4 linked regions of the Homo sapiens genome follow. The protein of the gene in region 1 purifies or fractionates together with the protein of each later gene. This does not show direct contact. Each region holds a gene or a part of one and is shown on either strand. Other genes may lie near its edges. The genes, in order: TNS1, EVA1C, SNX21 and LPXN.

Region 1 (5,452 bases):
TGGGCTGCTGACTGTACAGGGTGTGAAATCACTGAGTTCCTCTGGGCGGGGAAGTTCTTCATTCCTGAGTCAGCCCTTTGGCCCCGAGCCACCCAGCGCTCACTTTTTCCTTCCAGAGAAAGTGTTGCTCAGGGGGGTCCTCAGAGCTGTCTGCAGACAAGAGGACCCTCTCCCCCATGAAGACATCTTGTTTTTGTGTTCACGATCCCTAAGACGCTTCCCCTCCTGCCCTAGTCCCTGAACCCCCTGCATCAGCACCCTATATGCCCCCCATCCTCCAGCATAGGAAAAGCGTGTCCCCTCTGGCACAGGGACTGTTGGCTTGGCTGAGCCCCACCTTGGCCTGTTCTTCAGGGGCCCCCGGGCTGGCTCAGAGCAGTGGGATCAGGATGCTCGTCTTTGCAGACCTGCTGTGATCCTGCCCGGCATACCTTCCCAGGACCCGCGTCCCTTTCCTGGAGTCTTGAGTGGTATGGGCTGAGCTTGCTGGTGGAGGGGTAGGGGTCCATCAGGAGTGGGCAGTGCTGGGGAGGAGCTGGGAGGAGCCTCTGGAAATGTGGCAGTGGGCAGCATGAATGACATTGTATCTCTGAATGGTTCTATCACATCCTTTGCATTGAGCTGGAGACAAATCTAGCTGAGGGCAAGCTTGTCTTAGAGAGTCCCAGCTCTGCCTTCAGCCTCCCTGCCACCACCACCTTGGGCATGGTGGGGCCCTTTGCTGCACCCTACTGCCCTCCTGGGTTCTCCCCCTGCTTCCGTGGGCAAAGGCTATCCTCGGGGCGACTGGCCGTCCATGCTGATACCTCTATGGGCATTCAAGGCAATGGCTACTCTCCTGGCATTCTGCCTCTAATCCAGAGTGGGAACTCCAGACATCGAAGCAGGGGTGAGACTTTTTGAGATGGGGTGGCGGAGGGGACTGAGGATGCTTTGGAAATGGTCATTCAGGAATTAATGATACTCATAATGGTGATGGTTAGGGCTCCCAGCTGTTGAACTCCCATCACGTGCCAGGAACTGGTCTCAGCATGTCATGTGTCAACTCATTTAAACTCAAAGCACAGTGTATTTAATGAATATTGGCAATTTCAGATGGTTCAACCAGATTCTATTATTATCCCCATTTTATGGACCAGGAGGCTGGCTCAGAGAGTTATTCATGCCTCTGGTCAGGAAGCTGGTGAAATGCCAGAGCTAGGCTTGGGACTGGAGCGATTTGCCCCCAGCACTTCCTGCTCAGTGTTGGGCTCCACTGCCCGGCCCTGAAGCTGAGTGTTGGTGAGGCTCTGCCCCAAAGCCTGGGGTAGAGGTCTTTCTGTCAGCTCCCCTTTTCCCCACCTCAGGGTGGTGAGAGGAGGTTTTAGGATGCAGGGCATGGGAGCTCTTAGCTTCTTTCTCTGGCAGAGTGGATGATACCCCTGCCTCCCGCTAATGTCTGTTGTCTGTTGTCTCCCCTCCGGCTCTGTCCCTTGCAGAGGTGGTGGGACACACGCAGGGGCCACTAGATGGGAGCCTGTATGCTAAGGTGAAGAAGAAAGACTCCCTGCACGGCAGCACCGGGGCTGTTAATGCCACACGTCCTACACTGTCGGCCACCCCCAACCACGTGGAACACACGCTTTCTGTGAGCAGCGACTCGGGCAACTCCACAGCCTCCACCAAGACCGACAAGACCGACGAGCCTGTCCCCGGGGCCTCCAGTGCCACTGCTGCCTTGAGTCCCCAGGAGAAGCGGGAGCTGGACCGCCTGCTGAGTGGCTTTGGCTTAGAGCGAGAGAAGCAAGGCGCCATGTACCACACCCAGCACCTCAGGTCCCGCCCAGCAGGGGGCTCGGCTGTGCCCTCCTCTGGACGCCACGTTGTCCCAGCCCAGGTTCATGTCAATGGTGGGGCGTTAGCATCTGAGCGGGAGACAGACATCCTGGACGATGAATTGCCAAACCAGGATGGTCACAGTGCGGGCAGCATGGGCACACTCTCTTCTCTGGACGGGGTCACCAACACCAGTGAGGGGGGCTACCCAGAGGCCCTGTCCCCACTGACCAACGGTCTGGACAAGTCCTACCCCATGGAGCCTATGGTCAATGGAGGAGGCTACCCCTACGAGTCTGCCAGCCGGGCGGGGCCTGCCCATGCTGGCCACACGGCCCCCATGCGGCCCTCCTACTCTGCACAGGAGGGTTTAGCTGGCTACCAGAGGGAGGGGCCCCACCCAGCCTGGCCACAGCCAGTGACCACCTCCCACTATGCCCATGACCCCAGCGGTATGTTCCGCTCTCAATCCTTTTCGGAAGCTGAACCCCAGCTGCCCCCAGCTCCGGTCCGAGGGGGAAGCAGCCGGGAGGCTGTGCAAAGGGGACTGAATTCGTGGCAGCAGCAGCAGCAGCAGCAGCAGCAGCCTCGCCCACCTCCACGCCAGCAGGAAAGAGCCCACTTGGAGAGTCTTGTAGCCAGCAGGCCCAGCCCTCAGCCATTGGCAGAGACCCCCATCCCCAGTCTCCCTGAGTTCCCGCGAGCAGCCTCCCAGCAGGAGATTGAACAGTCCATCGAAACACTCAATATGCTGATGCTGGACCTGGAGCCAGCCTCCGCTGCTGCCCCACTACACAAGTCCCAGAGTGTCCCCGGGGCCTGGCCAGGGGCTTCTCCACTCTCCTCCCAGCCCCTCTCTGGATCCTCCCGTCAGTCCCATCCACTGACCCAGTCCAGATCTGGCTATATCCCCAGTGGGCATTCGTTGGGAACCCCTGAGCCAGCCCCACGGGCCTCTCTGGAGTCTGTCCCTCCTGGCAGGTCTTACTCACCTTATGACTATCAGCCATGTTTGGCTGGGCCTAACCAGGATTTCCATTCAAAGAGCCCAGCCTCTTCCTCCTTGCCTGCCTTCCTTCCGACCACCCACAGCCCTCCAGGGCCTCAGCAACCCCCAGCCTCTCTCCCTGGCCTCACTGCTCAGCCTCTGCTCTCACCAAAGGAAGCGACTTCAGACCCCTCCCGGACTCCAGAGGAGGAGCCATTGAATTTAGAAGGGCTGGTGGCCCACAGGGTAGCAGGTAAGAGGTATTCAGTCCTGACTCCTTCTACCCCTTCCTTATTTGGTCTTGCTGGGGGGAGGTGCAGGTCCAGCCATGACCCCTAAGCAGATGTTGCTTTCACTGGTGGGAGGAGGCTCTCAGGAGCCTATATGCTAGCCAGTTATCCCTTCCTGCATTCATTGTCTGATAGGCACCAAGCCAGACACCAAGTTTCAAAGTTCAATGTCAAGCAATTCCTGCCCTCAAGAAATTTACAGTCTAGTGAGCGGACAGATACACAGACAGATGATTTCATTAGAGAGTAATGTGTACGGTGACAGAGGTGGGACCAAGATCCCAGAGCCTGGGAAAGCAAAGCTTACCACCTAGGGCAGTCAGGGAAAGCTTCCAGGAGGTGGTGACTTTGGGGTTGGAGTACAGACTTTCTAGACACAGAGGAGACTCTGCAATTGCCTGTCGTGCTGTCTGTCCTCAGACTTTAGTTCCTTGGGGGAGACGTGGAGAAGGCTGGAGGGAGGCCTTTGTAGACTCAAATTCCCTCTTAGGTCCCGCTCCTAGAGGCCATGAAAGAGTCCGAGAGGGTATCCTCAAGCCCTTAGGCTCTATCTGCTGGGGCGGGGAGGCCAAGGTTCCCCTTCTAAGTCAGTTTTCCTGTTAGTCTTTGCTGAGGACCAGCCCTGTATGGGAAGTAGGTGCTGAGAGACAAAGCTCCTTTTCCTATCAGAGAGTGGGCTTCTCTTTTGGGAGAGAGGAAAGTGGGACACTCAGAAGAGCTTTTGGGGAGACAAAGGCAAGAAATGACAGCATGTCTGGGGCCATGTTGGGAGAGACAGCTGCGAGGTTCCCTTCCCACTGGTCTAAGCCTATGCCCATTCCACAAGGGTGGCTGAACTTGGCAGGAAAACCTGTTGGGTGACTTTATTCTGGAGGTGGAGCCCAGACAGGGGTGGACCAGAGACTGTGGATTTGGGTGGACCTTGTGCCAGCCCCTCAGCTGACAGGGTGGTGGGAGCTCAGCGAGGAGGAGAGGAGCCTGGGCAGCTGTCTCTGTCCTCCACCCCTTTTCCTAAATTTAGGGGAAGCTGAGTCACCATGCCAGCTGCAGGGAGGGAAGGAAACACCCTCCCTGGAGATGGACCGTGGGTTTAGGGAAGCAGCTTGGGGCAGGCCAGCTGGCTCAGGACCTGGTGTGGGGACACAGGCTCCCTGCTCCTATACTTCAGAGCAGAGCAGAGTCCCCAGCTCCACTATTGGTATAATAGCTTGAAATTGGCCATTGCAGGAGTATTTACACCATGGAAATTGGCAATCAGCCTCACCTCCCATAGAGAGCTGGCCTAGCAGTAACAATTCCTTTTACCTGAGCATCGGAACAAAGGATGGGCAGTTCTTAACCTCGGATGAAACGCTCCATGGGTGGTCCATATGGGCTTTGACTTCTGCCTTCTCCCACATCTGGGCCCCTGAGATAAAGATACCCCCCTGGCTTTGTCAGCAGAGATCCTTTTCTTCTTGGTTTTTTTGAGGTGAGAGGGATGGGGCTTTCTGAATTCCCTGGGAATTTAATTCCTCTCCCAATATTTTGCAAGGTTGGAGTGGTGGCCTAAAGATTAGTGACACGCTAGTCTAATGAGGGGCAGGATCCAGGAGCCTTCTCTCTGGGGGAGCAGAATACATTTCCTCCCCTACAAGAACCCTTCCATGCAGCTCTCCTGGAGCTTGCTCAAGAGGAGGCCATAACCCTAATGGCCCTGGGAGGATGCCCATCTTGTAGTGGACTGCCTTTTAGCCCTTTCTCTCCTACCAGCTTTCGAAGGCTTGACTGTCAACTTCCATATTCTGTAGCCTCTCAGGCTTTGGCTGCCATGAAGTCATAGATAGGGAAGGATACTGTTGGCACAATGTTCCCATTCCCTAACCCTGTTGCCATTTCCTCCATCAACTGGGAGTGACTCAAGAGAAGGGATGAAATGTATAGAGGGGACACTTATATTTGGCTCCCAGGTCTATGAAGTTGCCTCTTTGGTTCAAGCCCTGTCATTATGACAGAATTTATGTCAGCAGGTCCTGCATGAGTAACTTCCTTAGTAGCCTTTCAGGGTATCTGCAGTGCCTGTGTAGATAAAGGCAGACAGACAAGATCAATGTGTGGAAAAGTCTGGGAGGCAGGGAAGATAGATTTCAGCACTACTTCTTTCTGCTCTGTCTACATCTCTGCCGTAAGAAGCTGGAACATACACTTTGACATGAGTAACCTAGGAAGCTCAGATCTGTGGGAGAACCTCTTCATGGCCATGAACTTGATCTGGTTTCTCCTGGCTTTCCTCCCCCAGGTCTGCCTTTTCCCCATTGGCTGTCCTCCATACCTCAGTCTCAAGTCCCTGGTTTATTCCACTTTGATCCAATCACCCTTG
Region 2 (5,452 bases), on another chromosome or scaffold:
ATGCTGAGCCAGCTATTACACTGCTTTGCTAAGAACTTCCAACACACACTTACACACACAGATACACACGCACATGTGCATGCACACACATGCATGCGTACACACACGCACCCACACACACACATGCAGGCACACATACAGATACACACACACACAAACACACATACAGATACACATACAGGCACACACGCACACACACAGATACACACATGCACAGATACACATGCACACACATGACGGCACACACGCACAAGCATACAGACACATGCACACACATGCAACACACATACATACATGCACACAGAGATACACATATGCACAGAGATACACATACATGCACACACACGCAAACACATATGCACATGCAGATACACGTATGCACACACATGCACACACACGTGCACATACGCATGCACACATGCACACAGATACACATGCATGCACACACAGGCACACCTGCAAACCCATGCACACACAGATACGCATGTACACACATGTACACATAGAAACACACATGCACACACATATACACATGCACACACAAAAACACGCATACATACAGACGCACACATGCACACACAGAGACACATGCACACAGATACAGACACACGCACACAGACGCATACACACATGCACACATGCACACACGCACACGCATAGACACCTATGCACACACACGTGCACACATACACACACATGCACATGCTCACAGACGCACATGCACACATGCACACACACATGCACACACACACACCACTCCTTTTCCATTTCTCTAATTTCCAATGTTTTTCTATGAGCTTCCTTAGAGTCATGATCTTGATTCTAGAATGAATTCGGGGAGTAAGTCTGTATTATTGAAATGACAGTAAATTCAAACATACCTAAGAAGCTTTTTCAATGTTGGGGAAACCATCTCACAGATCATTCAGATGACCCCAGGAGATGCTTCACCAGGGACCCTTGGACATCCTCCTGTCCCTTCTGCCAACCTCTGTGCTTTAATATCAGGGGACAAACCTCTCGATTTTGGTTTCTCTTCTCCTTGTCCCCATGTACACTGGACTGCACTACTGTGTCAAAGCTACTTGCAGCCTGACCTGGGAAATGTACTTTTGGATTCACTCCATTTGCCGCCTATTTGGGTGGTTTGGGCTGGAAACTGCCCTGCTCACACTCTTGGCTCCCAGCTGCTCCTGCTTTGGGGGTGCCTAGAGACCCCAGCTCATCCCGTGGGTCACATCCCCACAGTGGGGCCGGGGATGCGACTGAGAGTTGTCTGGGCACCTCTCTCCAGCAGCAGTGAGGATGGAGCTCAGCACTGTGTGACATTGGCTGGTGGCCACTGCCTGTTTGGGTCGAAATGACCCAGCCTGATGTCCACATGCACCTCTGTGGCACACTGGCCTGCAGACCCCTGAGCATGCACTGCATGCTTCCCACCTCTAGAGTGGCCACCCAGACAGCGACATAGACACACCAAGAAAACCCACAGGCAAGCCCAGAGGCACCTGTTCTACTAGGGCTTTGTGAGCCTCTGTGATTTGAGTCACGAGCTTCTTGTGGTGATTTCATTTAGCTAACATCCAACACAGTGCATTTAGAGACTCTTTCTCTTGGACATTATATGGAGGCGTGGTCATGGTTTGCTAAGATAAATGTCACCAAACACCCCTCAATAAAATCAAATAACAGCTCATCAAGTCCTTACATTTTAAAAAAATGGACATCTTATAAATAGCAAATATTGGATGACAATAAAGCACAGGAAAAAGCTCATAAGCCCATATCAGCAGTCATCATTCAGTTGTTCCTTAACTACTGACTGTGCACCTGTTCTGTACCAGCACCGCATCCTAGATACAGGGATACCACACAAAATAAGATGACAAGGCACCTGACCCTGTGGAGCTGAGCCACTAGCAGGAGAGATAGTCACTAAACGAATATCTCTATCCTGTGGTTTCTGGGAATGACAATCACATAAAAGGATAGAAAGAGATGGAGGAAAGCTAATTTAGACAACTCAGGATCAGAGTGGGGAGGTGGTTGCATCCCTCAAAATTCAGAGTAGCTGGAGTGCAAGCCTTGTATTAGCTGAGCCTGAATCCTGGCCCTGCCGCTGTCCATGGTGTCCTCAGGCAAATGGCTCAACTCCTCTGACCACCGGCTTCAAGTGCAGAACAGGGGATCAGAGTCCCATCTCTCAGGGTTGTTGCTATGGACTGAATTGTGTTGCCCCCAGTTCACTCATTAGGAGCTAATTAAGGTTAAAGGAGGCCATAAGGGGGGAATCCTAATCTGATAGAATTGGTGGTTTTATAAAAAGAAGAGATGTCTCTGTCTCTGTCTCTCCCCCTCTCTGCCATGTGAGGACAAGCAAGAAGGCTGCTGTCCACAACCCAGGAAGAGAGCCCTTACCGGAAAGTGATTGGTGGATACTTTGATCATGAAATTCTGGCCTCCAGAACGGTGAGAAAATCAATGTCTGTTATTTAGGCCATCTGGTCTCGGGTACTTTGTTATGGCAGCTGGGCTGGCTAAGGCAGTTGTTGAGAGGAACGGACAAGGTAGTTGGGGTAAAGCACACAGCAAGGCCACAGCTCACTGAGCGCAATGTCGGTCTCGTTCCCCTTCAATCGTTATTCTCTGTCTGGAGGATTTTCATGATGGCTTTTCTCCAAGAAGCTCCCCAAGGACTTTGTAAATATGGGGATATTTCTGACAGTAAAAATCCTTACAGTTCTTAACATTGACAATGATCAGGAACAGCAAGACATGAAAATGAGAAGGTGGCTAGAAAAGAGAGGACCCACAGAAGAAACCATCAACCACACAACACACACACAGGAGGAATCCTGACGCAGGAGGACAATAGAACAGCAGGGGACCCCAAGACTGAACTTTGCATCTCATGTATTGAGATCATTCCCCAATATGGTTTGGCTGTGTCCCCACCCAAATCTCATCTTGAATTATAGCCCCCATAATCCACATGTGTCATGGGAGGGACATGGTGGGAGGTAATTGAATCATGGGGTGGGTCTTTCCCATGCTGTTCTGGTGATAGTGAATAAGTCTCACGAGATCTGATGGTTTTATAAAGGGGAGTTCCCCTGCACAAGCTCTCTTGCCTGCTACCAAGTAAGACGTGACTTTGCTCCTCATTCACCTTCCACCGAGATTGTTAGGCCTCCCTAACCATGTGGAACTGTGAGTCCATTAAACCTCTTTCCTTTATAAATTACCCAGCCTCAGGTATGTCTTTATTAATAGCATGAGAACAGACAAATACATTCCCTAAGCCTCTATTTTCCTCTGAGACAGGCTTACCCCAAATAGCCCATCTTTGCAGGCCTTGAATAGCAATACTGTTATGTATTATATTAACATGTATTTTACTGAAGGTCTCTGGTTTTTGTCTCTCTGAACATAGGCAGGCATTGCTGAAACTTGCAGATGGCATTCCAAAATGTGTTCTATCTTAAGATAAGCAGAGAGGGTGGTGAGGAAAAATTGTACATACCTTCCCCTCAATGAAGAGGTCCCCGCGGTGTGGCCGGCCTTGGTATAAGCCTTCTGGCTCTGCTAATTCATGAGGGCTGAGTCTGATTGATCCTCATGGGGAAGACTAACAAGGGAATCCTTGACAACTATTAGGAATAACACTCATGACCCAGAAAGTGGCTCTGTCTTCATGGGGCATGATCTGTCTTGTTTACTAAGTGACCTTCTGGCTCATTTTTCTTCCAGTCAGGGCTGGAATTCAATAATCCTAGTTCCTTCCCGAATTTTAGAGCTGGGAAATGCATTCCTCGGGTTTCTACTTTTCAAAAGCGAAAAATATCTGTGGAGCTCAACTCCTAAATAGTGTGACTTTGTCTGTTTATGTGGTTCTCTTGCTGACTGCCTGGTTACAACTGTGCCTGAACTCAGGCCTCTGTGTTTCTGAATCTTAGAAGTGGTGGTTGGCATGTTAAACTTGAAGTCATCGTCCTTTAGTTATCTGAGTGCTATAATTGAACAGCACATTTATTAACAAGACTTTAGTAAATCCATCAGCATTCTAGGAAGCTTTGATTCATTGACCTACCTCTAATGTAAGCAAAGGCTGCCAGAGAGTTGCTAACAAGAATTCCATCTTTCCTCAGAACCTTCGATCCGCTTGGGTCGAAGTTTATACCTGTTTCATGAAAAATGCAAGACCAATTAATCACAGCTGTTCATAGTACGCCTATTCTAAGACACCCCTGCTGCTCCTACCCCAGGGACCGCCGGAATAATTAAAAGTCACAGAAATCAAACAAATGGGCCTCTGGCTAAATTACAGAAGATTAACCCAGGAAGAGCACTTATTAAATAGTAAGCAGTCCCCGACAATATTAAAGTACAAAAAGGATTAGAAATTGTTTTAAGTGTTGGTTCCAACTTCAGGTGCTGGTCTTCCACTCCACTGTGGAAGGGAATAAGTGGATTTTCCCATCCTAAAGACAGTGACATTCATCACACCCCTCAGAGGCTTAATAATATCTCGCTTTATTTTATTTATTTATTTATTTTTGAGATGGAGTTTCACTCTTGTTGCCCAGGCTGGAGTGCAATGGCACAATCTTGGCTCACTGCAACCATCTACCTCCTGGTTTCAAGCAATTCTCCTGCCTCAGCCTCCTGAGTAGCTGGGATTACAGGCACGTGCCACCATGCCCAGCAAATTTTTGTATTTTTATTAGAGATGGGGCTTCACCATGTTGGCCAGGTTGGTCTCGAACTCCTTACCTCAGGTGATCTGCCCGCCTCGGCCTCCCAAAGTGTTGGGATAACAGGCGTGAGCCACTGCTCCCGGCCAATAATATTTCACTTTAAGCATGGATTTGATGTCTGCTGTGTGGCCAGAGATAAAACAAGCCTCCATTACAGAGGGAGGTTGTATTGGGCTACTTTTTTTGGAAACAACAGCAAAATGTGGGGCAAATCTGCTTTTAAATCCTGGTTACACTGCTGGATGGAGCTTAGCAAGTCTGTGATGGGGTAACCTGATGGCTTGGGGGACTCCTAGCCATGTCAGACAGGACAGATGCCTTTGAGGAGAGACGGCACAGGGTTGGCTCTCAGGCCCCCACTGCAGGGGGACCAGGCTGTTTATGGATCGGGTGGGAACCCTGTTAGAAAAATAAGTGGAAGCTGGGTGCGGTGTCTTACGCCTGTAATCCCAGCACCTTGGGAGGATGAGGTGGGTGGATCGCTTGAGCCCAGGAGTTTGAGACCAGCCAGGGCAACATGGCAAAGCCCTGTCTTTACAAACATAATAATAATAGTTAATTAATTAGTTAAAAGAAAGAGAAGAGGAGCTAAGGAACACAGAGCCTGCCAGAAAGCCAAGGTGGCCAGCTAGAAGGACACAGAAGAACATTACCAATAGTTTTCTTTGAGCTTTTGGAGTAGGGGTGCTTTCATA
Region 3 (6,183 bases), on another chromosome or scaffold:
CTACTTGGGATTACTTGAGGCAGGAAAATCGCTTGAACCCAGGAGATGGAGGTTGTAGTGAGCCAAGAGTGTGCCATTGGACTCCAGCCTGGGTGATGGAGTAAGACTCTGTCTCAAAAAAAATAAAATAAATAAAAATAAATAAAAAAGGAAGAAGAAGCAGGAGGAGGAAGAAGGAAGCAAAAAGAAGAAGAAATAATAATAGTGGAGAATGCGCAACCTTCAGATCTCCTAGTTCTGACTGTTTATATGACCCAGCATAAGCCCTTCCCCTCACTAAGCCTCAGACTACCTATCTGTAAAATGGAGGTGATAGGCCAGATTTCTGAGGGGCCCTCCTGCTCTAACAACCCATGGTTTCATGAAGACCAGCTTTGTGCCCAGACATGTAAGGCATATACCGAAGGACAAGTTATTTTTTAACCAATGGTTGGTGAATGAGTGAGTGTTGAATTAATGAATGAAGTATGCCTTTTTTGTCCCAATATCTTGCCCATAAGCCAAATGAAGAGTAATTCGAGGTTTGAAATTGTGCAAACTGGCCAGGCACAGTGGCTCACGCCTGTAATCCCAGCACTTTGGGAGGTAGAGGCAGGTGGATCACTTGAGGCCAGGTGTTCCAGATCAGCCTGGCCAATATGGTGAAACCCCACCTCTACTAAAAATACAAAAATTAGCCGCATGGTGGCACATGCCTGTAGTCCCAGCCACTCAGGAGGCTGAGGCAGGAGAATTGCTTGAACCTGGGAGGCAGAGGTTACAGTGAGCCAAGATTGCATCACTGTACTCCAGCCTGGGCGACAGAGCAAGACTCTGTCTCCCTCTCTAAAAATAAATAAATAAATAAATAAAATTGCACAAACTTAGGCTTAAAATCCCAGCCCCTCTATTTCCCAGATGTGGATCTTGGGGAAGTCACTTTGCCTCAGTTTCTTCATCTTGAAAATGGACCATTAATGTCCAGTTACAGCCTCTTCCCCAGGACGCTGTGAGGGAGAGATGTGACAGTAAAGTGCCTAGAGCAGGATGTAGAAAGTGGACCCTCAGAAAATAAGAACCCCAGCCTTTCTGCTCACATGGGAGGGCAGGGAGCTGAAATACCTTCTGCTTATCCCAAGGCATTTTCCCCCACCCTTCTCTCCTGTGCCACTCAGAAAGGGTAGGAGCTACTTTGGAGAGATTTTGATTTTATTTATTGTATTGTATAACTATCAAAATCTGCCCTAACAACTGATACCTAGGCTTTGTGACAGGAAGCCACAATAACTTTTTCTTGACCTGCAGCTGCCCTGCGGATAAAAGATAAAACAAAGCTGGGGAGCCACTGAGATTATCAGGCCTGCTGCACAGGAAAAGGGCAGTATGCAGCAGGGGACCTGGGCTCCAGGCCCCATACTCAGAAACCTCTGAGGGAGGCAGAGGCAGGTGGATCACTTGAGCCCAGGAATTCGAGACCAGCCTGGGCAACATGGCCAAATCCCATCTCTACAAAAAATACAAAAATTAGCTGGGTGTGGTGGCGAACGCCTCTATTCCTAGCTACTGGGGAGGCTGAGGTGGGAGGGATGACCTGAGCCCAGGGAGGCGGAGGTTGCAGTAAGCAGAGATGGTGCCACTGCACTCCAGCCTAGGTGACAGAGTGAGACTCCATCTCAAAAGAGAAAGAAAGAAAGAAAGAGAGAGAGAGAAAGAAAGAAAGAGAGAGAGAGAAAGAAAGAAAGAAACCTCTGGCAAGCTGTGTGGTTAAGCCAAGTAACTCACCCTCTCTGGTCCTCAGTTTCCCTGTTTGCCTACTTCCCATGTGTGAGGTTCAAATCAGATTGTGCAAGCCTGTGAACACTGTAGAAACAATAATCATTATGTAAGTGATCATTTCGTCAGCCTTTGCTCTATGCCAGGCACGGGACGAGCGTTCTTACAAGAGCTGCAAAATTAGTTTTAGCAGTATTGTTCCTGTTTTACATATGAGAAAACCTAGGCTCAGCGAGGTCAGATTCCAACCAACCCAAATCACGCATCTTCTCCTGGCCCTTCGTTTTCTCTCGGGAGACATGGCCTCCCTACTATTGCATAATTACTTTGTGAAGTTAAAGAGCGTTGGGTGGAAATGAGTGGGACAGATTGGAGATGACGTGGGTGGGGTGGGAGGATTCAAGGAGGGTACGCGCCTGGCCGGACTGGGATGACTCTGCGGCAGGCCTGGGACTCCCTCAGGCCGACCCAGGCTTCCCAAGTCCCTCCTGGAGCCAAGGGCCCGGGATTCTCGGGCGGCTCGGGCGAGCGGGCGGGGCAGGAGGCGGGGCGGCGGCAGGAAGCTGCCCGAGCGGCGCTCTGAGCGGCCTGAGCCCGGCGGAGCCCTGCAGAACCCGGCCGACCTCCATGGGCTGCGGGGGGCTGCACCCGGACCCCTGGGGCGCGGCGCGCCCCTGAATGCACCGTGGGACGCAGGAGGTAGAGGCGCACGAGGCGGCGCAAGAGACATCGGGAGGGTCCTGAGCCCCTCCGGGGAGGAACGCGGTCCTAGGCTGAGTGGGTTGGGGGGAAAGCGATGCTGGCTGGGTCCCCTGGTTCGCAAGACCTCGGACTGCCAGGGGGTGGGGCCTCACCGCGCCCCTCCCTCTCCGGTTCGGGCCCCGCCCCTCCTCCTCCTGCGCCGGGCTGGGGTACCCCTCCTCCGGGATCCGGTACACAGCGTCGCGCGCTCCCCCCAGGGTGCCATGGCCTCCCGGCTCCTGCACCGGCTGCGGCACGCCTTGGCCGGCGACGGCCCCGGGGAGGCGGCGGCCAGTCCAGAGGCCGAGCAGTTTCCGGAGAGCTCAGAGCTGGAGGACGACGACGCCGAGGGCCTGTCCTCCCGACTCAGCGGCACCCTCAGCTTCACCAGCGCCGAGGACGACGAGGACGACGAGGACGAGGACGACGAGGAGGCTGGCCCTGACCAGCTGCCCCTCGGGGATGGGACGTCAGGAGAAGACGCAGGCGAGTGCAGGAGGACGGAGGCGGGAACCCTGGGGCTCGATTAGGCCTCCATCCCAGCCGCGTTCCCAGAGCATCCAGGGCGCTAAGTTGATCCAGCTGAAACTCCCACACTTCTTAAAGCGCCTGGGCCACCTCTTGGCTGTGTGACCTTGAGAGAGTCTTAACCCCCCTCTGAGCCAAGTTTTCCCTTGTGTCAAGTGGGAGAACTCACTCTCATCTCAGAATTGCTGCAGGCATTAAATGTACAGGGCTTGGGATCCGAATGGAAATGATGTATTAACGATATTTTGAGGGTGGAGCTATTAATTTAGCCCCTACTGTCTGCCAGGCACGGTGTTTGGCTCCTCGGTGCCTCTCTGTCCCTCAGTTTCCATTTCTGTAAAAAGGGGGTAAGTCCTGCCTCACACTGGGAGGATGAGTGAGGCCACGTCAGTGGTTGATGTCGACCCTGGCCCTAGGCCCATTGATATGACTGGTCATGTGTCTGCAGAACGGAGCCCCCCACCTGATGGGCAGTGGGGCAGTCAGCTCCTGGCGCGGCAGCTGCAGGATTTCTGGAAGAAGTCCCGGAACACCTTGGCACCCCAGCGGCTGCTCTTCGAAGTGACCAGCGCTAACGTTGTCAAGGACCCGCCCTCCAAGTACGTGGTGAGTGAGGGTCTAGAACCCCTGGGCTGTGAGTCCAGAAGTATGGCTAGGAGCAAGTAGGGAAGACCCCAACTTCCTGAGGGGTCTATGTAGTTATAAATGGTTACCTTGTTTACAAATGGGGAAACTGAGGTCAGAAAGGGGATGTAACTTGAGCAAATCCTCACACAAGACTTAGTTTCCTTGAGACTGACTGAAGTGGGGATTAAGGACCTTCCTCTTAACCTGGTTTTGAGACTAAGAGAACTGGTGTGTGCACTTCCCCACCCAGCCCACAAGGTTTTTGCAAATTGTAGCAAGATGTGAGATACAGAGAGACAGATGTTATCTGGGTCAAACTTGAGATCCAAGTTGCATGGGCTGGTAGTTAAGGAAATAGGCTTTCGATCCAGACCAATCTTGACTCCCACTTATTTCCAGTTGTTTGACTCTGGGTGAGTTGTTTAACCTTGGTCATCTTCCGTTTCCTCATTATAGCAATGGGGAAAATGCAGAAGATTACAGCAGGAGTTAAATGAGACAATGGACAAAAAGCCCTTAGCAGTGTGCCTGGCATTATGACGTGGTCAATGAAATGGTAGCTATGTCATCATTATTTAACTTTGGGTTGAAAATGTTTGTCATCTAGGGCCTGCTGTGTCCTTATAACGCACAGGTCAATCAGTTCTCAAGCACCCGACCTTGTCCCTAAGGGCTAGACTTAGAGGGTTGGTGGAGGTTAGGATGAAGAGCAATGTTGGGGAGGACCTTGGAGTCCCTTGCTGTTTTCCTTGCTGTTGAGAGACTGACTTGGAGAATGAGGTCTGCTCCTTTAATGCCCACAGCGACTCCTGCTCCAGTCCCTTTTCAGGCCAGGCCTGAAAGCCAGCTGAGCTGGCCACTCCTGTCAGTGGCAGCTCTCCATCTCTCACTCCCCTCCTCTTCACCACCCTTCTCCACCTCTGACTCAGCAGGAGGGGGCCTGGAGCCCAGTCCCACATCTGGGCCTCTCCACCCTTTTCTGTTGCTGTTAGTAAGCAAGGGCCACACCCATGGGGTGACTACTCCAATTTCAGCAGGGACCGACTCCGATTATTGAGTCTTTTAAAAAAATTTTTGAGGCCGGGCGTGGTGGCTCACGCCTGTAATCCCAGCACTTTGGGAAGCCGAGGCGGGCGGATCACGAGGTCACGAGACCATCCTGGATAACACGGTGAAACCCCGTCTCTACTAAAAATACAAAAAAATAGCCGGGCATGGTGGCAGGCGCCTGTAGTCCCAGTTACTTGGGAGGCTGAGGCAGGAGAATGGCGTGAACCCAGGAGGCAGAGTTTGCAGTGAGCCGAGATCGAGCCACTGCAGTCCGGCCTGGGCAACAGAGCGAGACTCCGTCTCAAAAAAAAAAAAAAAAAAAAAAAAAAATTTTGAGACAGGGTCTCGTTCTGTCACTCAGGCTGGAGTGCAGTGGTGCAGTCATAACTCACTACAACCTCCAACTGGGCTCAAGCTATCCTCCCACCTCAGCCTCCCAAGTAGCTAGGACTACAGCTGTGCACCACCACGTGTGGCCAATGATGAAGTCTGAAGTGGCAAAGGTCTCAGAACTCTGGGTTCATACACTGGAAGGGGACACCAAGGAATAGTTCAGAGGCTGAGAGGAATGGGGGTGACTGTGGGTACCTGGATGGGAAGGGATGACAAGATAGAGCAGGATGGCCAAGTATGCCCCGGCCTGTGTCTGGAGAAGCAAGGCACCTCCTGTGTACAATGGGGACCCTAATTCCCCACTCAACTTGTGGGGGTGAAGAGCACAGGCTTTGGAATCAGATCAACCTGAGTTTAAATCCCAGCTGGGCTGTTTTCCAGCTGTGTGACTTACGGCAAGTCTTTGAGCCCTTTTCCCCCTCTTTGAGCCTGCTTCCTCAGCTGTCAGAGATAAGGACCTTCCTTGCAGTGCTGTTGTGATGATTAAATGAAATCACAGATGTAAAGAGTGCTTGGTACAACAGGAGGCACAGGGTAAATGCTTGGGTAATGGAACTACTGTCATTATCACCCATCTGGCTGCATGTTACAAGGTCAATGAGATAATGGATACAAAATGTAAACTAGATGAACATAAAGGCTTATTATATAGACCAGTGTGTCCTGAAGAAAACTGGTGTCCTAAAGTGTGTCCTGCAGAAAACTAGTTCCCTGGAATGTTAATAGCTGTTTCTAAATAAAGGTTTTGCAGGCAATATGTTTTGAGAATGCAGAGTTAAATGAGAATACAATAAGTTTCTTTATTGTTAAAGTATTTAATCCCTAATAGTGATATACACTGTGAATCTTCAAGAGGACAGAGTAAGCAAACCTAACTGACCAGGAGTGGCTAGAGTATTGTCAGTTCCACAGAACAAATGTGAGAGAAAGATCTGGATTTGGTGTTAGGGTGCCTTTAACATCTAACACTGGTTAACTCTCCTTTTAAACCTGTTGGCTTGGCATTATAGGTTAATCCATATTCAGGTTCTCAGACCTGGGAGGCGGGGAACTTCGTGATCATCTTGTTCAGTGTTTTCCAAACCTCAGTCA
Region 4 (5,452 bases), on another chromosome or scaffold:
TTGTCATACTGAAATTAGTCATCTTCAAATTACAAAATCTGGCAAAAGGCATAATAACCTCACAGTGTTGGTGATATGCACACTCATATGAAACAGGAAGAGAAAAGCCTATAACTCATGACCCAGAAAGAAGGGTTTTGATAACTTTGGTTAGCTGGTGCTTCTGAGGGCAACTTCCTACTCTTTGTGGTATGGTTTCTTCTCTCTTATAATCTTTATTGTAAATGGCTTTTTATTTTGAGCTCAGGAGGATCTTTGGCTTCTAGTTAGAGCAAAGCTTAGAAAATAGAAAAGAAAGGGGCTCTAGCATAATTGAAAGATGTAGAATAAAAATTCAAAATTCTCAAATTTGGTGTGGGGTCTGGCTAATAAAAATCTGAGGCAAAAAGTTTTCTTTCTTTTTCTACCTTAGTTTTCTTTTCTTTTTCTTTCTTTTCTTTTCTTTTTTTTTTTTTTTGAGACGGAGTTTTGCTCTTGTTGCCCAGGCTGGAGTGCAATGGCACGGTCTCGGCTCACCGCAACCTCTGCTTCCCAGGTTCAAGCGTTTCGCCTGCCTCAGCCTTCCTGAGTAGCTGGGATTGCAGACATGTGCCGCCATGCCTGGCTAATTTTGTGTTTTTAGTAGAGACGGGTTTTCTCCATGTTGGTCAGGCTGGTCTCGAACTCCCAACCTCAGGCGATCCGCCCGCCTCGGCCTCTCAAAGTGCTGGGATTTACAGGCATGAGCCACCATGCCCGGCCTATTTGTCCTTCTTTTTAAAAAACTTCTATTATAAAGAAATTTAAGTATGCAAAAGTAGAGAAAATAGTTTAATGAATTCTGATATACCCATCAACCAGTTGAAACAATCAGTTCTTCATCAGTCTTACTTCATATATATGCCCACCCATTCCTTTCACCCCTGTAATTATGTTAAAACAATTTCAGATGTCATTTTATCTGTAACTATTTTAACACTGACCTCTAAAATAAATATATATTTATACATATAACTGTAATGCCATTGCCATAACAACAGCCTTAATATTAATTCCTTAATATTGTAAAATACCATTATCACACCTAAAAACTTAACAGAATTAATTAATATTATTAAATATCATTATCACACCTAAAATAAACAGTACTTACTTGATATTATTTAATATCCAGTCAGTGTTCAATAGTCTTGATTGTTTCATTTTTACAGTAGATTTAATGATCCAAATAAAGTTCATACACTGAAATTTATTATAAGTCTCTCAACTTTTTAATGCCATAGGGTCCCACTCATCTCTTTTTTCCCATTACAGTTATTCATTTGCCCGAGAGTTTAGTTCAGTTTGCTTATCTCTAAAATGGTACATAAAAGTCAACATTTTTGATAAATGGATGATTATGAAAGATCTGTATATTTCATTTGTTAAAAAAAAAAGGATTAGATCTCTTCTAACGCCATTAAGAAATATTCATTCCTCCAAAATCTAAAATAAATGAAAAATCTGTTTTTTTTTTAATGACCTGTGAAGTTTATTTTCCTTATCTGAGAACTTTAGATGTAGGCAGGTCCTTAGAAATAATGTAATTATGTGTTTAAAGTTTGAAAGCTAAAATCTGTGGTAAGAAGTCCGCTAGAGATCCACTAATGCATTATTGAGCCATAATTTGAAAAATACTGTTCTAATCAAATTGCCTTGTTATGTAGATGAGGAAACTGCATCAGAGAAGGATGTGACATGCTCAAGGTAACCCAGAGAATATATATAAGACAGGAGACTGGAACTTCTAACTTTTAGTTAATGCAGGGGCTAGGGATCAGATAGCCCAGATTCAAGTCCTGGTTCTGCATTCATGCGCTTAAGCAAATTATTTTTGTCTCTTTCTTGTGATCTACAAAATAAGGACAATAATATCATCTGCCTCAAAGTGTTAGGATGATTAAATGAAATGTGTAAACTCCTGAGCACAGTGCCTGGCATGTGTTAATTTTTATTAATTATTATTTATTTCATTGTAACAGATAGATACTAGTATATAATACTTTTCCAAAAAAAAAAAAAGAAAAAAAACTGAAAGAGTAACAAATCCCAACTATTTAAATTGCAACATCTTACTTGATTTTGCAATATCTCAGTTTTATCCCCAACCATTTTTTCTCTCCACACCCTAAAAGACAGGATACTTATACCTTGCTTTGAAAATTTTGTTACGTGCTCAGGATAATTGTTAAGATTTAAGAAAAAATATCATTAGGATTAAGAATAAGTGTTATTTCCCTCGTATGTTTTGAAAAATGGTAATATAATTGCTTCTATTTTTCTGATAGAAAAAAGCATTTAGGATTTATTTATTTATTTATTTATTTATTTATTTATTTATTTTTTGAGACAGGGTATCACTCCTTTGGCCCAGGCTGCTGGAGTGTGGTGGCGTGATCTCGACTCATCGCAGGCTCACCTAGGCTCAGGTGATCCTCCCACCTCAGCCTCCCAAGTAGCTGGGACCACAGGTGTGCATCACCATGCTGGGCTGACTTTTTTGTATTTTTCATACAGACTGGATTTTGCTATGTTGCCCTGGTCTGGAACTCCTAGGCTCAAGGGATCCTCCCGCCTCAGCCTTCCAAAGTGCTAAGATTATGGGCATAAGCCACTATACCCAGCCCAGTTTTATTTTTTTCTAATTAAGGATATTTGTGGGGAATCTACCCTAAATGAATGATGAAAATTAATACCTGTGGTATAAAAAATCAAATTATAGCATGAGACTATGAAATTGAATGCAACCATAGAAAATAAGAAACAAACCACAATTTATGGAGGTGTTAAACATTTCTTGGTAGGATTCACCACATTCTTGAAGTGAAATAAGGAATAAGGGAAAGTATTTGAAAATAGCCATAATTGAAGAAAAGGAGATGAATGTGGGCACAGTGAAGATATTTAAGGAGAAAATGACTGTAGGGATTTAAATATTCTCTGTCATGATTCTCTTGCTTCTTATGGTGTAGATGCCTTATTGGAGGAACTGGAACGCTCCACCCTTCAGGACAGTGATGAATATTCCAACCCAGCTCCTCTTCCCCTGGATCAGCATTCCAGAAAGGAGACTAACCTTGATGAGACTTCGGAGATCCTTTCTATTCAGGATAACACAAGTCCCTTGCCGGTAAATTTTCATTTATTATAGTCCTTAAACATGGATGTTTGAGTGCATTTCTGAAAATTAACAGAATCCCACATAAAATAATATGAAAGGAGAATAATATATCCAAGAAAGAGAAAAAATAATGCCTCAATGTTAATCTAAAGATGTTTTTGGAAAGAGGAAGAGAATTGAGAAAATCATCACAGAGGAATGAGTTTTTGAGAACTAAATTTTTTTTATTTTTTTTATTTTTTTTATTTTTTTTTTATTTTTTGAGACAGAGTCACACTCTGTCTCCAAGGCTGGAGTGCAGTGGCACAATCTCGGCTCACTGCAACCTTCACCTCCCAGGTTCAAGCGATTCTCCTGCTTCAGCCTCCCAAATAGCTAGGATTACAGGCACGCACCACCATGCCCAGCTAATTTTTGTATTTTTAGTAGAGACGGGTTTTGTCATGTTGGCCAGGCTGGTCTCAAACTCCTGACCTGAGGTGATTCACCCGCCTTGGCCTCCCAAATTGCTGGGATTACAGGCATGAGCCATCACGCCCAGCCGAGAACTACATTTTTTCTAATGAGCACATGGTCACAGGCAGAGTATTGCATTCACTGGGGATATTCTGATGTTACTGTGGGGGCATCAGAGATGCCTGTTGCAGTTTGACTGGAATGGTACTCAGGCCAGAGATCACCTGAGGAAGGCCAGGTGGCAGCATAGACAAGTCTTCTCAGGGTGACTTTTTAGGGTCACTACTTCCCAGGTCTTATTTTCTGCTGAATAGATTAGGAGATTCAATTATTAGTTTATATAGAGATGATGAAGCTCTAGGGAACCAACTCAAACTAACCAAATTGACAAGTGATTATATATATATTTTAAAAACCTAGGGCAGGTGCAGTGGCTCAGGCCTGTAATTTCAGCACTTTGGAAGGCTGAGGCGGGGGGATCACTTGAAGCCAGGAGTTTGAGACCAGCCTGGGCCATATGGTGAGACCCCCATCTCTACGAAAAATTAAAAAATGAGCAGGGTGTGGTGGTGCGTGCCTATGGTCCCCGCCACTCAGGTGGCTGAAGCAGGAGGATTGCTTAAGCCCAGGTGGTCGAGGCTGCAGTGAGCTATGATTGCGCCACTCCATCCCAGCCTGGGCGACAGAATGAGAGCTTGTCTCAAAAAACAAACAAACAAAAAAAAAACAAAACTCAGAAATCAAATTTACAGTTAAAGCTATCAAGTAAAACAGCTATATTTACTCATATATGCATTCTCTTCCTATGGATAAGTCTATATGGACGTACATTATAATTAAAAGGTTGCTTGATGAGAATGGAATTAGTGTAAGATGAATTAAGTAGATGCTCTTCATAGCTGGTAATTTTGTACTATGATATTTTGATTCATCATTGTTCCCTGTATGAAATAGCCAGAAGCACAGACCTGAAATTTGAGCTCAGGGGTAGTTTACGCCCTAACTGTTCTTTTCTCCAGACACATACACAATTTTAACGATACGAATTTATCTCTCTACTAGGGAACTATTGTCTTTGTTCTCAGTGTTAGATTATAGCTGTAGGCTCCTAAGTGGTCTCCTGCCCTTTGCCCCACTGCAGTCTGTTCTCAAGCAGCCAGGGTCACCTTTAAAAACTAAAGTCAGACCCTGTCATTCTTCTACTCAAAACCCCAAAATGACTCCCATCTCATTTGGAGTAAAAGCCATAGTTTCATGTTGATCTTTCTGGGGTGACCATATATCCTGGTTTACCTGAAAGAGTCCTGGGTTTATGCTTGTTTTTCTCACATCCTATTAACTTTACTTTTTACCCCAGATCTTCAATTTTATTTAAAGTTTTCTTATCAGTATTTGCATTAAGTAAGCCACTATGGCTTAACAGACCTCCTTCCAGCTTCTTCCATGGTCTCATCTAGCAGCGTATGAAACACATATTCAGTGAACAGTGCTCTTTTTTTTTTTTTTGAGATGGAGTCTCTTTCTGTCGTGCAGGCTGGAGTGCAGTGGTGCAATCTTGGCTCACTGCCACCTCTGCCTCCCAGGTTCAAGTGATTCTCCTGCCTCAGCCTCCTGAGTATCTGGGACTACAGGCATGCACCACCATGCGCAGCTAATTTTTGTATTTTTAGTAGAGACAGGATTTCACCATGTTGACTAGGCTGGTCTTGTACTCCTGACCTCAGGTGATTTGCCTGCCTCAGCTTCCCAAAGTGCTGGGATTACAAGCACGAGCCACTGTCCCCAGCCAAATTCTGACTTAATTATGGTTAAATGCAAAAGATGGCTAATGATAACTTGTCTTTTTTCTTGATTCTG

Evidence for each region.
Region 2: the proteins of TNS1 (region 1) and EVA1C purify together in Homo sapiens (co-immunoprecipitation; one large-scale study listed by IntAct). This does not show direct contact.
Region 3: the proteins of TNS1 (region 1) and SNX21 purify together in Homo sapiens (co-immunoprecipitation; one large-scale study listed by IntAct). This does not show direct contact.
Region 4: the proteins of TNS1 (region 1) and LPXN purify together in Homo sapiens (co-immunoprecipitation; one large-scale study listed by IntAct). This does not show direct contact.

Annotation. Positions count from the first base shown.
Region 1 is NC_000002.12:217,845,114-217,850,565, reverse strand, and holds part of TNS1 (tensin-1), read left to right. Parts: intron 1-377; exon of another isoform or gene 378-705; coding exon of another isoform or gene 706-889; intron 890-1,478; coding exon 1,479-3,056; intron 3,057-5,452.
Region 2 is NC_000021.9:32,502,654-32,508,105, reverse strand, and holds part of EVA1C (protein eva-1 homolog C isoform 1 precursor), read right to left. Parts: intron 4,181-5,452; coding exon 4,091-4,180; exon of another isoform or gene 4,003-4,090; intron 1-4,002. UniProt on the Homo sapiens protein: Binds heparin.
Region 3 is NC_000020.11:45,831,490-45,837,672, forward strand, and holds the start of SNX21 (sorting nexin-21), read left to right. Parts: upstream 1-2,309; 5' UTR 2,310-2,430; coding exon 2,431-2,451; intron 2,452-2,711; coding exon 2,712-2,979; intron 2,980-3,469; coding exon 3,470-3,627; intron 3,628-3,688; exon of another isoform or gene 3,689-4,104; coding exon of another isoform or gene 4,105-4,188; exon of another isoform or gene 4,189-4,201; coding exon of another isoform or gene 4,202-4,204; exon of another isoform or gene 4,205-5,846; intron 5,847-6,183. UniProt on the Homo sapiens protein: Binds to membranes enriched in phosphatidylinositol 3-phosphate (PtdIns(P3)) and phosphatidylinositol 4,5-bisphosphate. May be involved in several stages of intracellular trafficking.
Region 4 is NC_000011.10:58,568,252-58,573,703, reverse strand, and holds part of LPXN (leupaxin), read left to right. Parts: intron 1-2,990; coding exon 2,991-3,148; intron 3,149-5,452. UniProt on the Homo sapiens protein: Transcriptional coactivator for androgen receptor (AR) and serum response factor (SRF). Contributes to the regulation of cell adhesion, spreading and cell migration and acts as a negative regulator in integrin-mediated cell adhesion events.